2 linked regions of the Homo sapiens genome follow. The protein of the gene in region 1 interacts with the protein of each later gene in a pairwise test. Each region holds a gene or a part of one and is shown on either strand. Other genes may lie near its edges.

Region 1 (4,587 bases):
TGGAGGACCCCACAAAAAGGCTGCTGCACCTCCAGGTCCCCACAGAGCAGGTTATGCCCCTACCAACCAGGTGCTATGACACCCAGAGGCTGGGGCTGAGCCCACTAGGGCCACAAGGCCAGGCCCAACTGGAAAGCTCAGATATCCCTGGTCCAGCACCCAGGACTTGTCTACCTGAGCAATGGAAAATACATGTGGAGATGATGGTCAGTCGGAGTGACCCCCATTCCCAGCAGCCATGCACGTGTGCAGACGTGCTGGCTGAGAGGCTGTGTACAGGACGTGGCCCGCAGAGCGGAAATTCAAAACCAAGCCACCCCAGGCCACTGGCCGGAAAGCCCCTCCTGCCCAGCAGCTGGTCCTTCCCTTTGGCCCCCAGAAGCCCCGCCTGGTCCTCTAGAGCCCCACCCTGTTCTCCTATGTCTGTCCTACCACCCAGAGTCAAAGGCCTACCCTTCACCCACTAGACAAGAGTGTACCCCGGGCACACAGTAGGTGCTCAGCAAATGTTAAATGAATGGAATGGCCGGGCGCGGTGGCTTAGACTTGTAATTCCAGCACTTTGGGAGGCCAAGGCAGGCAGACTGCTTGAGGTCAGGAGTCCGAGACCAGTCTGGACAACATGATGAAACCCTGTCTCTACCAAAAATACAAAAAAAATTACCCAGGCTTGATGTTGCACACTTGCGGTCCTGGCTACTCAGAAGGCTGAGGTGGGAGAATTGCTTGGGCCTGGGAGGCGGCGGTTGCAGTGAGGCGAGATTGTGCCACTGCACTCCAGCTTGGGCAACAGAGTGAGACCCCACCTCAAAAAATGAAAAAAATAAAAAAAATAAACGAATGGAATGCATTTGAGGCCCTCGGCAAGCCCTCTTACCTGCTCCAAGTGAGGCCTGGCCCCTGGCCATGTCTACACTAAAACATCCTCCCACTGGGTCCCAATTCTACTATAGCATAGACTGCACATTCCACCTCAGCTTTCTGTTCACAGAGACACCAAAACTGCACCTCCCTGGTGGCCCACCCCACACCACTCCCCTCCAAATATGTTTCCCTCTCAAACTGGATGCTTGTCCTCACACCCAGCCCAGACTTCCAGGGTGTGTCCAGTTCAGCTTAAAATCCTTCTCTGACTCAACCCAGAGACCATGAACCACCCAGCCAGTCTTGTTGTGCCTCAGTTTCTCCAACTGTCCAGGGCTTCAAGGCTACTTGCTAGGGCAGTGGCACAAGGACAGGAGCAACCAGTTGTCATGATCTGGCAACCTGGAGCCCTGGACTGGTGTGGGGACCATTTGTGACATGGGCCAAAAAAACCAGCACACAACAAGGAGTGGCTTGAGAAGCCAGCGAAGACATGGGTCCCATGGGCCCAGGCAGAACAAAATTCTGAGATACAGACTCCTACCCTCCCCAGAGATTCAGCCCCCTGCTCCCAATGTCAAGAAATCAGATTCCCATTTCTGGTTTCAGTCATTCCAGCCCTCTCAGAGACGTGCCAGGCTTGGCCTCTTCCAGTCCTGATCCCTCCCGTCAGTGATGCTTCTTGCAGGAAGGGTACCGTGGCTGTGCCGAATTTCCCCCATTCAAAATGGAACCATCTTTGGGTCTCTTTAGCTTTCTATCCCCCAGACTGAGAGCCCCGAGGGATGTGCTTCCTTTCCAGAAGGAAATGAGCCCCATCCCAGACCTTTTACAGAACAGAACAGGAAGGGGTGAAAGGTCCAAGGGCCTTTTCCAGGGGCAGCTCTGTGGCCAGAGTCGGTCATGGAAGAAAGGACAGGGTTGGCAGGCTGAAGGAAGGATGGGCATGAGTGGGGAAGTCCTCCATGGTGTTCCTCAGGGCTCAAGAGCCTTTGACTTAGCCTTTCTCAGACCTGTTTGAGAGCCCATACCTGGACTCAGGACTCAGGTCCCCGTGGGGGGAAAAGGGCGGGTCCCCGCAGGTCCCTCCCCTGGCCTCCCCCTGCCTGGGTGTAAACAAACGCACGCATTTGCTGTGGCCAATCGAAGGGGCCAACCGGGCGGGGGCGGGCTCTTGCAAACCAAGTCTTGGTTCCTTCTCTCCGCCGTGCGCTGCGCGGGCTCTAACTTACACCCTACCCAGCGCCAGGTGGGGAGGAGCTCGCACGGCGCCCCGGCCTCAGGTCAGGGAGCCACTCGCGCCCTGCGCCCGCTGTGCCCGCTGGCTCCTCTGCAAATGGCACCGGCTCTGGGACCAGCATGTACCCCGCGGCCCCTCAGGCGGCCCGGCCCGATCTGCCCTCAAGCCCTTGTCCGGAGCAGCCGAGATAAATATACCCGGATTCCCATCGTGCCAGCCGGGCTGCTCTGCCTGTCAGGCGCCCGTCGGGGCAGCGCTCCAGGGACTGCTCCAGGCCCCTCTTGGGTCCTCCCCTCGGGCCCTCTCCAGCCTGCCCCATGGGCCCTGCCTCAGGAAGCCTGTGGTGTGCCGCCCGAGCCCCCAACAAGGCGTCCTGTGGTCCCAGCCCCGGGTGCCGCCGACCTCCTGCTGTACCTCGCAGCCCCGCCGAGAGGCCCTAAGGCGACGACGTGTCCCTCCCGGTACCCCCAGGGCCCTGCTTAAGCTCGGCGCTGAGTCCCGACTGGCAGGTCCCCAAGACCAGCGCCTGGAGCGCGCGGGGCTTTGGCTCGCCGGAGGCTGGGGCGCCTGCCCGGGTCAGGACGGTAGAGGAGAGCTGCCCAGAGCCCGGCTACGGACAGGAGGGTGGACAGTAGGGCTCGGCCCACCCGATTCCCCTGTGCGGGTGGGATGAACTCCCGAAGCGGTACCTGGCCTCGCGGTTGGGAACGTGCGGCGCTCCGCTCGGGCCGGTGCGGTTCGCTCTGCTCCCGGCTGAACTCGGCTGCAACAGCGACAACAGCGACGCGGGATGAAGGGCGCCCGGCCCCGCCCCCGGCCCGCCCCCCGCCCGCCAATCCCTGGCGGCCCGCGGGAGGAGGGGCTGGTCGGGGGAATGGCGGGGGCCGGGGCAGGCCGGGAGCAAAGGGGCGGCCTGAGCGTTAGGGAGCCCCTAGGTGGGAGAGCAGAGCTGCCAGAGGGACTCCGTTGAGTCTTGTGGGGGGAATGCTTCAGTCCAAAGCAGATTCTCTCTGAGGTCTGTGGGTGTCACATTAACCCCTGAAATGCTTTGCCCACACCCCCCAAAGCCAGAAGGGGAGCTTCCGCCAAGAGGACTGGCAATGCATAGCCTCAGTGAGAGATGCTTGAATGGGGGACTTTCAGGCGACACTCAGGCAACAAAATACCTCTTCTACCTGCCTCCCCCTTCCCAACCAGGGGTGGGGTGGGGGCGAGGGTGGGAGGGCTTCTTATATCAATTCTGTCTCCACCCCAGATATTCAGAGGAGGCTGAGGCTGGAACACAGAGGGCAGGGGCAGTGAGGTCAGGCAAGGAGTAAGGCTTGGCTTGCTTGAGCCTCACCTGGGGCCCCCCGACCATGACCCCCGTCCTTATTTAGAAGGTGTAGGAGACAGCTGTCAGCCTGTCCACAAGAAGGGGGCTGGGACTTGGTGTCCTGGGGACAGACAGGGGTTTTAGGATGGCCCCGTTCTTGGCTGGGGGCTCCTTATCCCACCCCTGCCTGCTTTCCACACAGGCCCTTGGTGCTCAGAGACGGGTGGTGGGTGTTAAGGTCCCAGGTTCCACCAGTAGGAAGCTGGGGGAGATGCTGACCTTCGGGGTGAAGTGGGGGGGTTCTCAGAACAGCTGTGCCCCTTGCTTCTCAGTCACTGGCTCTGATCCGATTAATCTCATGGCCTCTGCTGTTCCTATTCAAGCTGGTCTTCTCTGTGTCATGCCTGCCCCACTTCCCAGTGCGGGGGGAATGCCCTGAGAGGACATACCCGACCCTCCCCTGCCCTGGGCTGGGAGTCAGGACTCCAGGATTTTCTCCTGCTGACTCACAGAACCACCACAGCCAAGCCCTGGCGTACCTTGGTTTCCCTCTGTGACATGGAAATGGCTGTCTTTTCTCCTGAGGGGAATGAGTGGAGGGGAAGCTGTGAGACCGGGCAGGGGACTCAGCTCTGGCTGGCAGGGCTAGAGAGAAAGGCATTGGGATGGTGGCAACCCCTGAAAACCTCAAGCCACTCGAACTTCTGCCTTGCTGGTGGCTGGAAAATGGGAAAGGGCTGCCTTTCACTCCTGGTCTGGGGCTGATATCATCCTTAGATCAGAGCTCACTTTGACTCCCACCCTCCAAATGGGCATGGTTCTGCCATGGGACAGCCATATAGAAGAGGTGCTGACGAGGGTCTCAGGCCTGCCTCCCACCCCTCAACCTCCCACTTGCAGACACCCTGGATGCTCACAGGAGCTATCTGCAAAGGGCTGGTGGCTCCCACTGGCAGTTCTTGAGGGGCCAGGGCTGGCTCAAGGTCACCTGGGATATGGGTGTTGGGGTCCTCAATCTAGACTGGAGGAAGCAGGGGCTGACTGGGCTGGGCTGCTGTGGGAGGCCCAGAGGAGGGTATGATGTGGGGTCCCTGGGTCAGACCAGTTGTGGCCAGGCTGGGGGAGGGGCTGACTGTTTGTTGTTGCTAGGCCTGGGCCCCAGCCAGGG
Region 2 (4,363 bases), on another chromosome or scaffold:
TAGTAAGTATACAGCAGCAGCTAAATTAGTTTAGCCCCCAGCGGGTGGTATAAAAGACCCATACGGATACTGACCAATTACTTGAATTAAAGGGCCATAAAGACAAGCAAGTAGAGCTCACAACTTCAATGCTAACACGGGCGGAAAAATCACTGCAGGGTGTTCTGTACTAATAGTAGGATTCCACAGACAGCATAATGACTTTTAATACTTCAACATCCTTTGAGTAACAAATGATAAATGTATTTGAGACAAAACTGCTACTACACACATTGCTATCACAAAGTTTCACAATCACTTCTGTATTTAAGAACTACTCTTTTGTAGTCTGTTTCTAAAGATTTCTCATTAATTTCATAATCATTCCAATACAAAAAATACAAAACTGGGAAACAGTTAAAATAGAATACATAATATCTTGGACTTGAAATAATACCACGTGTAACCATTATCAGCTGAAAAGCTAGATTAAAAAAAAATCAATCAAGTTTCCCAAAGTATAATGTTTGGACCTTCAAAATATTTAGTTCTAGGGAAAGATACAAGTCAGAAGCACACACAGTGACAAGATATGCCTTGAAAACATGTCTACTGTGTAGTATGATAATCGATACACCAAGTGCTTACGTTCTGTTTAGACTTCAAAGTCTGATCAACCATGAAGTCAAAGGTGTATTACAGAAACGAGATGTAAAAATGAACAAATCCCTTCTGCCCTTTTTCCTTTTGGGAAAACTGACCTCATAGGCTCGTTCCTCAACAAACACTGACATGAAGACTTACCTGTTGGCCTCTCAATTACATCTGATGTCCCAAACCCACTGAGAGTAAAACTTGGAACTGTTTTCATTAAAAAATTCACTTTACAGTAGATCTCAAGATGGACAAAGATAAATAAGGAAAGAAACAAGAAAAATGTAAAGAGGGAAACAGGCAGATATTTCAGCCAATTAGTTTAAAACACACACACACACACACACACAATAAAAAAAGATAGGTAATAATATACTGCTCACGCCAACATTTTTAACAAGGTCAGCTAATTTTTTAGGCCTTCAAGTTTCCGTGCTGTTCTAACTGTATACAGAGAATTACCACATGGTCTTCTGGTAATGAGAAATTTAAAGTTGAAAAATACTATTCTCATACCTTCCGTGAAGCTTTATTTTTAAAAGGATCACAAAAACAGAACTTTCTGTTAAAGAAAACATAGTTAACATTTTTACACTCAGCTCTGTAAAAAATTTAAATTAAAAAAGAAAAAACATCTTTGTTTTATACCTTTATTTAACAAGGACAAATTTAGTAATTATCCAACAACTCCTCAATGTCAAGGAAATTAATCTTGCCTCTTCTGATGACTGCAGTGCTAAACTTCTACCTACACTTTTAGGAAAGAGGTGAAGGCATTAACAAAAATTTTTTTTGAGACTTCAAATAGCAAACTCTCACCTAAGTTTTGGATAAAAATTAATCACCCCGCGAAGAACATGTAGAGCTTTACAGGTTTCAATGCTATATCCAAACACAAAGCTTATACTTGTTTTACACATGTTCTGCTTTTCCACCCTGCAAGTTATCAAACACACGTACACCCAAAGCCAACTTCATTCTACAGACCTGCAATTCGAATCATGCAATCACGAATTTGTTAGGGAGCAGCCAAAATCACGGTTTTGTATAACTGCTGATGAACACTTCCAGAGTAGTGGCGGTTATTTTCTCAGAGATCACAACTTTTTACCTCCCCACCCCCACCCCGTAAAAAGGTTAAGGCTTCCCGAAGTTGGCTTGGAAACTGTATATATAAAAACTTACACGTTCCCTTTCTCCTGGCCTCGGTGCTATCTTGACTCTTTTATTGTCAAAAAAGGAAGTACAAGCACGAATTAAAAGCCAAGCACCAGCCACAATGTACGCAACGCAAAGAATAAATTTCCTTTGTAGACTTAATATTTAATATTTTTTGTCGTCCTAAGTCTCCTAACATCTGCAGCAGCATTAGTGTGATATAGTTCTATAAACCAGGATGAATATATCCATTACATTTTTGCCTCGACCACTAGAAAAATTATTTACCGTAATTATTAAAGTATAAATAAAGCTCCAATAGCTAATCAAAATGGAAGCCCCGCATTAAGAAGCAGTGTAGCCTAAGGCCCCGCTGCATCCCAATGCGCGTTTCGAGGCTTACCTTCGCTGCTGCCTTTTTCGGCTTCGCTTCCACTTTTGCAGGAGGTTTCTGAAAGGCAAAAGCAGCACTGAGCGTCCTCACCCGGGACGACCCGCGGAAAACGAACGGTTACGGGGCTCGCTTTACTTACAGCTGACAACCGCGCCGATCTCCTCTTGGGCTTGGAGAAAGAAAAAGGAGAGTCAGCGAGAAGAGAAGGCAGGCCAGCGGCTCACGGGAAACCCACCACCCCCCGCAGAAGGCCCGCACTCACCTCTTCCTTGGCGGCGCCTTCGGCGGAGCTGACCTGCGGAGACGGAGACGCACGAATAGAGGCGGGCCGCAGTCCCAGGACTCGCGGGCCCGCCCGGCCCCGAGAACAATGCCCGGCCGCGTGACGTCACGGCTTCCCGCCGCCCCGTTCGAATAGCCCCCTCAGCTCCCCCGGCCGCCAAACGTTCCAGAACGCCCGCCCCCGCGGCCGCCGAGCGCTCGCCTGCCCGCCCGCCGGTCTCCAAGCGCCTCCCGGGCCCGTCGCCACCGTGGGTGCAACGGGGCCTGGGCCTCGCGGGGCCCGGCGGGGCGCCGGCGGCGGCTCCAGGGGGCGTGTGCGGGCCGCGGCCGCCGCTCACCTTCCTCTTGGGCATCGTGGCGGCGGGGAAGGCGCGTGCCGGGTGCCTGCGGGGAAGGCGCGTGCCGGGTGCCTGCGGGCCGCGGCGCGCCGACAGCCTTCGCGAAACTGGGCTGCCTTGCCGCTGCCACTCCTCCCGCCGCCCGAGCTGCTGAGACCCACAGCGGGGGCGGTGGGAGAACCGGATGGAACCGGATTGGGAGCCCGCCTCCTCCTCCCCCCGCGTCCCCGGCCGCGGGCTCCCCCTCCCCGCCGGCCGGGCCGCCCCCCACCCCCGCCCATTGGCTACGGGACTCAGCCCGCGCCCGGAATAGGTGAGGCGGGCCCTTAATTGATCCCGGACCCCGCCCCCTTCCGGGGGCCCCCCCCCCCCCCCCGGGCGCCCCCACCCCTTTCCGCCGTCTCGCGGGGCCCCAGACCCAGGCGAAGGGGGCGGGGTCCCAGTGGCGCTCCGGCCTCACGGTAGTTTGAAGCCGAGCCGCAAAGTGCGGTCTGCGCGCTGATTGGCGGACGCACGTCACGGGACCGCGGGTCCCCACCCACAATTCTTCTGGATACCTGGGCGCCTTCAGGCCACTGGTATCTGGCCCCTCCCCTCCGGGGTGAATTGGGTTCGAACATTTATAGTTCGTATCTTAGACTGGGAAGGGAGAAGGATAAGGTATACAGGAAGTAGCAAATTTCTCCCGCCTCTGTCGGCAAGAAAGGCTATCCAGGGGCTCCAGCTTCGCAGGCCTGCGTGAAGCGGGCCCTGGTGCGCAGGCGCTGCAGGAGGGCGTGGGAAGGAGAGCCGACGCGGCCTTTCTGTGTAACTTCCTTCCTTCCTTCCTTTTATTTGAGACAGGGTCTCGTTGTGTCGTCCAGGCTGGAGTGCAGTGGTGCGATCACGGCTCATTGCAGCCTCGACCCCTTCGGCTCCAGCGAACCTCCCACTCCGGCCTCCCGAGTAGCTGGGACCACAGGGCACCATTTTGCCCAGCTAACTTTTGTATTTTTTGTAGAGAGGGGGTTTCACTATGTTGCACAGCATGGTCTCCGACTCCTGGGCTCAAGCGATCCTCCCGCCTCGGCCTCCCAAAGTGCTGGGGATCCAAGCTGTGGAACTTTCTTCAGATTTCCCTGGAGGACTGCAGGTGCACGAGGGTCGTTTCTGGGCCCAGAGTAGGGCAGCTCTCAGATTGCAGCTCCTGAGAGCCGTGCGCGACCGTCTCCAGCACTCGCGGACCCCCAGAGGGCTGTTTTTTTTTCTCCATAGCATTGATTGAATATATATCCTTATACATTCCATATATATCTCAGGAAGAATACACAAGGAAGTGGTACCAGCGGTTGCCTCTGGGGAAAAGTGGGAAGATTGAGGGTAAAATTTCCCTTTTCTCGTGTGTAATTTTTTTTCACTTTCCTATCTGCATGGATTACCTTAAAAAAATTCAACATCAGAGAGTACCCAAGTTTGTGGCACAAGCATGTACTGAGCACCTGCCCTGTGGCAGGCACCGTGAAGTCCCTGGGGTAGAGAGAATCCAGGTTTGTATCCCAAGCACTGGGTCTAGTAATTT

What was found.
Region 2: the proteins of SLC38A3 (region 1) and HMGN1 interact in a two-hybrid assay, tested with the Homo sapiens proteins (one large-scale study listed by BioGRID and IntAct).

The regions. Positions count from the first base shown.
Region 1 is NC_000003.12:50,203,555-50,208,141, reverse strand, and holds the start of SLC38A3 (sodium-coupled neutral amino acid transporter 3), read right to left. Parts: upstream 2,872-4,587; 5' UTR 2,794-2,871; exon of another isoform or gene 665-2,793; intron 1-664. UniProt on the Homo sapiens protein: Symporter that cotransports specific neutral amino acids and sodium ions, coupled to an H(+) antiporter activity.
Region 2 is NC_000021.9:39,346,098-39,350,460, forward strand, and holds the start of HMGN1 (non-histone chromosomal protein HMG-14), read right to left. Parts: upstream 2,992-4,363; 5' UTR 2,821-2,991; coding exon 2,806-2,820; intron 2,509-2,805; exon of another isoform or gene 2,481-2,508; coding exon 2,448-2,480; intron 2,357-2,447; exon of another isoform or gene 2,355-2,356; coding exon 2,325-2,354; intron 2,243-2,324; coding exon 2,195-2,242; intron 1,846-2,194; exon of another isoform or gene 1,282-1,845; intron 1,196-1,281; exon of another isoform or gene 1-1,195. UniProt on the Homo sapiens protein: Binds to the inner side of the nucleosomal DNA thus altering the interaction between the DNA and the histone octamer. May be involved in the process which maintains transcribable genes in a unique chromatin conformation.